Linked DNA regions of Homo sapiens: region 1 is linked to region 2. Evidence: fine-mapped expression QTL. A gene starts in region 2. The other region holds a variant in brackets. All regions are shown on one strand. Distances are between the middles of the regions. Region 1 overlaps LOC124902986 (a long non-coding RNA gene). Region 2 holds the start of NDUFA12 (NADH:ubiquinone oxidoreductase subunit A12).

The links. PIP is the estimated chance that this variant, and not a neighbour inherited with it, causes the effect.
Region 1: its variant is fine-mapped to the expression of NDUFA12 in cerebellar hemisphere (GTEx, PIP above 0.99).

Annotation. Positions count from the first base shown.
Region 1 is chr12:94,102,340-94,105,254 of GRCh38, forward strand. LOC124902986 (a long non-coding RNA gene) reads left to right here. Exons shown (of 2, transcript XR_007063409.1): 1 at 1-1,277. Among named protein-coding and RNA genes, the nearest start is that of PLXNC1, 45 kb to the right of the region's middle. The variant C/A (reference allele first, on the strand shown) is at 1,575.
Region 2 is chr12:95,002,380-95,005,294 of GRCh38, forward strand. It overlaps NDUFA12 (NADH:ubiquinone oxidoreductase subunit A12), which reads right to left and starts at 1,318. Exons shown (of 4, transcript NM_018838.5): 1 at 1,216-1,318; 2 at 360-442. The coding sequence starts at 1,301. RefSeq lists enhancers at 949-1,576, 1,041-1,440.

The DNA of each region.
Region 1 (2,915 bases), 900 kb before region 2:
TCGTCTAACCAGCTCCCTTCCCTAGAAGGGCGGAAACGGCTTTCGAAGCATCCGCGATTCTCTTTATTGAATCTTGAGTGACACCTAGTGGCCCATCCGCCTCACCGTCACGGCGATGCTGGTTTCACTGGGCTTTTCAGAAGGCGTGCTGGCCTGCCCATGGTTCTCGGCTAAAAGACTTTGGAGCGTAGGGTGCCGATGAAGTTTCCTGGGACCTTCCGGAAGCACTTGCTGTCCCGTCAACAGCCCTGTACCTGCGATGCATGCAATTCTAATGAAAATGCCCTTCTCGTCTGGAGGGCTTGCTTGAGCACATCCTGAGCTCTCAGGCAGCAAATATAGAGTCGGGTGCTATTCCGGGAGCTGGGCACACAAAGATGACCAACGCTTGGTTTCTGATCTCAAGAATCTCACAGCCCAGCTGGGGGGAAATGGACCAGTAGAAGAGTGTGTATTTGATGCTGTGGGGTAGAGGGGGTGGACCTAGCTCGGCCTAGAGACATCAAGAAAGTCACCCTTGAGCTGAGTTTTGAAGATTAGGCAGAATTCTAAGATGACCCCTGAAGATTCTCAGCCCATCCCCCTCGCAGTGTACACACACCTTTGCCCAGTTATTCAATCAAACAATTTAGGTGCTTCTGTGAAGAGAATTTGCAGATGTAATTAAAGTTCCCAAATTAATTGATCTTAAGATCTGGAGATGATCCTGGGTAGGCCTAACCTAGCCAGGTGAACCTTTGAAAGGGACTGGATTGTCCTGGCAGAAGAGATTTGACAAGCGGCAAGAACTCATCATTGGCAAGATTTTCTTTGCTGGCTTTACAGATGAAAGGGGCCACGTGGCAAGGAATGCAGGCTGACTCTAGGAGCTCAGAACGACCCCTGCCTGACAGCCAGCAGAGAAACCAGCCTTCAATCCTACCACTGCAAGAGCACTGAACTCTGCCAATAAGCAGGGAGTTTGGAAGGGATCCCCAAGCTGTATGAGACTTAGTCCCAGCTGACACCTTGATTTTATCTCTGTAGGACCCTGAAGAGAGGACCCAGTCATGCTGCATTCAGGCTTCTGACCTCCAGAACTATGAACTAATAAATGGGTGTTTTAAGCTGTTATGTTTGCAATGTGTTATGAAGTCATAGGAAACTGATACAGATGGTCATTTCAAAGAGGGGAACCACATGACAAATGCTCAGAGCCATAAAGAAGCAGAGAACTAAAGTCATTCAGAGAACTAAAGACATTCGGCATAGCTGGACCATGGGGAGCAAAGGAGACGGTAAGATGTACTCACGAGAACTTGGCTTTGGATCAGAGAGAATGTGCCCTTGGGCTAGTTAACTTAGCTCTCTGTGCCTCAGTTTTCCCAAAGGTAAAATGGAATCATAATTATAGTTAAAACATAGAGTTGTTATGTTAGTGGCCCATAGGCATATAGAAAGTTCAACACAGCCTTGGGATATAATAAGTGTTCCAAAAATGTTAGGTAGTAATAGCTTTAGTAATTAATCATGTAGTTAATGGACTGGAATAAGAAGAGGACAAGTCATGTGGTTTTTACAGAGTGGTCTGGGGA[C/A]CATCTGCACTGGATGATTCCAGCGGTGAGCTTATTAAAAACCCACATGCCTGGATTGTACCTTGGTCTTACCAAATCAGACTCTCTGGGGGTAGAGCCTGAGAATCTGCACTTTCAAGAAGCTTCCAAAGTGATCTTTGTGATAACCACCAAGCAAGAAATAAGAAGACTTGTAAGTAGGTCACTGTAGTAGTCCAGGCAGGAGTGGCTGATAAAATCAAGCAAGGCACTGGCAATGAGAACAGGGAGCGGGTGTGGCACTCTTTGAGGCAGATGGAAACTACGGAACTGAGTAATCAGACAGGGGTGGTGGAAAGGAAGGAGGGCAGAGGATGAGCTGGAATCACCGTGGGGAGGTGAGTTCGGGGAGGATTGACTCAGATTGGGTCATGAGAGTCCAGACATCTGTGGGGTATCCAAGTGGAATGTCACATAGACAGTTAGAAAGACTAAAATGTAGGAGGTACATTGGTGCTAAAAATACAACGTTAAGTGTACATGAGTCCATGAAGTAATGGGATGATGCTGGCAGAATAGGAAGATGGTCAGGAACAGAACTTCAAATGTACCAGTTTTGGCCAGGTGCGGTGGCTCACGCCTGTAATCCCAGCACTTTGGGAGGCCCAGGCAGGCAATCATGTGAGGTCAGGAGTTAGAGACAAGCCTGGCAAACATGGTGAAACCCTGTCTCTACTAAATATACAAAAATTAGCTGGGCATGGTGGCACGTGCCTGTAATCCCAGCTACTTGGGAGGCTGAGGCAGGAGAATCACTTGAACCCAGGAAGTGAAGGTTGCGGTGAGCCAAGATCGTGCCACTGCACTCCAGCCTGAGTGACATAGTGAGACTCTGCCTCAGAAAAAAAGTACCAATTGTGGGCGCTGGGGGACCTAAGAGACTGAGAAAGAGCCACCAGAATGGTTGACTGGGTGTTGGGTGGACAGAAGTCCGAGGGGGTGGCCGTCAGCCAGCCTTGGAGCAGTTCAAATGGAAAAAGTCTGTGCACATGCCTGACACCTAGTCACCAGCAGATCAATGGTGGGCTCAGCAGGGCTCCTTTCAGTAGGATGAGGAAGGAGGGAGCCAGACTGCAGCCTGGGAATGTACAGAAGGCAAGGAAGTGGGGATTGTTCTTTAGCAATGTGGCTGTGAAAAAAGGAAAAAAATAGGGCAGGAATTAGAGATTCACACAGCCCTTCCTCTCCCATTGCATTGGTGCAAACCTACACACGTGACTGAAAAACATGGCTGAGCCGGGCAGCCATGTGGTGCCTGCTGAACCCAGATTGTGGCAGAAGTGGAGGGGATAGGTAGGGAGGGTGAGGCTCTCAGAGAAGGAA
Region 2 (2,915 bases):
TGCAGTGAGCCGAGATCGCGCTACTGCACTCCAGCCTGGCCGACAGAGACTCCATCTCAAAAAAAAAAAAAAAAAAAAAAAAAAAGAACAAAAACACTTCAAAATTTGATAGGTGAAAAATATATAACACTGTTTTTAAAGTTGCATTTCTGTTGTTACAAGTGAGAATGAGCATTTTTCCATACCTTCATTGGCTGTTTACTTTTCTTTTTTCTGTAAATTATCTTTTTTCATTTTCTATTGAGTTTTTCATCCTTTTCCAGGTGTTTTGTAAAAGCTCATTGCATAATATGGAAAATAGACTCAAATCAAATCCCAATCCCAATCCAATTATTCATACTAAAAAATACTGCACTCACCAAAAAATTGCTTGTTGTCTTCATAGTATTTGTTTCCATATTTGTCTTCCCCCACTAATGTACCAACCTTCGCATCATTTGTCCTGTGAATACCCAAAAGAAAACAGACATTTTAGAATGATTCTTAGTTCAAAACATAAACGGAAATAAAGTGAGAGTAACAACTTTCAGACACAAGGGCTGCTGCATCAACTAGCAAAATGAAGAAGTGCTGGGGATGGGAAAAGATGAATTGACAACTGATGTGCTCAAATTACACTAAAAATATAAATGTAGTCTCTTCAGATTACAGGACTACTTGTATCTACTATCCCTCAGCCAGGAGGCACTGGAATTAGCAAAACCTTTAGGAAATCAAAAAGCCAAAGTATTTCATCTTCTTACAATGATACGAAGGTCTCCAGGCTCTTTCATTCCACTCTGGGTCTCCATTTAGGTTTCTGCGAAACTATGCTGCTCGTGGGATCAGTGAATGTCAGGAAGAGAAGGGACCATCATTATTACCTTCAACGCCTTACAGACAAGGAACTGTACGGCAGTGCAGGGAAAAAAACTTTACCAGGGTCACTGAGTTAATGTCTTGTAATCCTCATTACTCTCCAGGGCGTGGGAAAAGAGGGGAGCCCAGATGCCCTTGCCTCCGAGTCACAGCTCTGACTCTACAGATAGCTTCGGTCTTGTATCGGGGATATATGGGACAGAGACCAGCCTGGGGGTGGCAAGGCAGAGATTGGGGCGGTTGTCCTTGACAAGAGCTGTGGATTCTCCAAGGTGACCCGAGCCTGGGACCCCTTCCAAGAAATCAGCCAGCGAAAGTCCAGCCCCAGAGGCCAAGAGCATGGCTCTGGCCGCCTACCTGAAAAAAACCCGTAGATAGCCTCGGAGACCGCCGTGGCCGGTGATCTGCTGCAGCCCGCGTTTCAGGACCTGCACTAACTCCATCTTGCCTCGCTGGCCCCGCCTCCCGGGTGCGCCGAGCAAAACCCACCGGATGGAAGCTGCCACTCAGCCGCAGGAAGCCCACGCCCAGAAGGTTCTCACGCGAACGCCAGACGTGGTGGCTCTGCGCGTGCGCAGAGCTAGGTCTTGCCTACGCGGTCATGTTCTGGCTTCCCAAGTAGGCAGAATTGGTTTCCCCTGGAAGCAAAGGTACCTTAAAATTTAGTTTTCAGAGGTTAAATCTAGAAGGCGGGCATATGCTGGAAAGCTCACCTACACGAGGCTTTCTCACACGGGGATTCCCCCTTTGGGAATTTCAGTTTCCTCATCTAAAAATAATTGGCTCTGGTGGGCGCGGTGGCTCACTGTTGTAATCCCAGCACTTTGGGAGGCCGGGTAGGGAGGATCGTTTGAGCCCAGGAGTTCGAGACCAGCCTCGCCAACACAGCGAGAATTCTGTCTCTACAAAAAAAAAAAAAAAATTAAAAATTAGCTGGATGTGGTGGCGCGTGCCCGTAGTCCCAGCTACTCGGTAGGCTGAGGCTTAGATGGGAGCATCGCTTGAGCCTAAAAAATTTCAATATTACTTCATTTGTTAACCACAATTCTTCTACAAAGAGAAACCTCCCTTCAACTATTTGGCTCCTGAGATACAATTAATGTAGGAAAGGCAGTATGGGTGCTTGATTCTCTTACTTTTTTTTTGTTTTTTAATTTTAGAGACAGGCTCTCTGTCACCCAGGCTGAAATACAGTGGTGTGATCATAGCTCACTGCAGCCTCAAACTCCTGTGCTCAAGCAGTCCTCCCATTTAAGTAAGTGCCACCACCCCTGGCTAATTTTTTTTTTTTTAGAGATGGGCATCTTGTTATGTTGCCCAGGTTGGTTTTGAACTCTGGCCTCAAGTGATCCTCCTGCCTCAGCCTCTCAAAATGCTGGGATTACAGGTGTAAGCCACCACACCCAGCCGATTCTTTCCCTTATGTGTGTTTTCAAAATAACAATTTAGTTCCCTAGCTTTTTTTTTTTTTTTTTGGTAGTGGTGGTTAAAAACACAAAATATAAAATTTACCATTTTAACCATTTTTAAGTGTACAGTAGTGTTAACCACATGCACATTGTTGCGCAACAGATCTCTAGAACTTATTCTTCTTGCAAAACAGAAACTTTATATCCATGGAACAACTTTTTCCTCTTTCTCCATCCCCTGCCAACCACCATTCTACTTCTGTTTCTAAGAGTTTAACTACTTTAGATACTTCATATAAGTAGAATCATGAGGTGTTTGTCTTTTAGGACCTGGCTTATTTCACTTAGCATGATATCCACAAGGCTCATCCATAGTGTAGTATATGACAGGATTTTCTTCTTTTTATAAATGTTGAATAATATTCCACTGTATGTATATGCCACCCAGTTACCTGTCCATAAACATTTCTGCTGATTCCGCCTCTTGGCTATTGTGAATAATGCTGCAGTGAACACGGGTGTGCAGATATCTCTAAGATCCTGTTTTCAGTTCTTTTGGATATATACCCAGAAGTGGATTGCTAGATCATATGGAAATTTTATTTTTTATTTTTATAGGAATCCCCATACTGTTTTCCATGGCAGCAT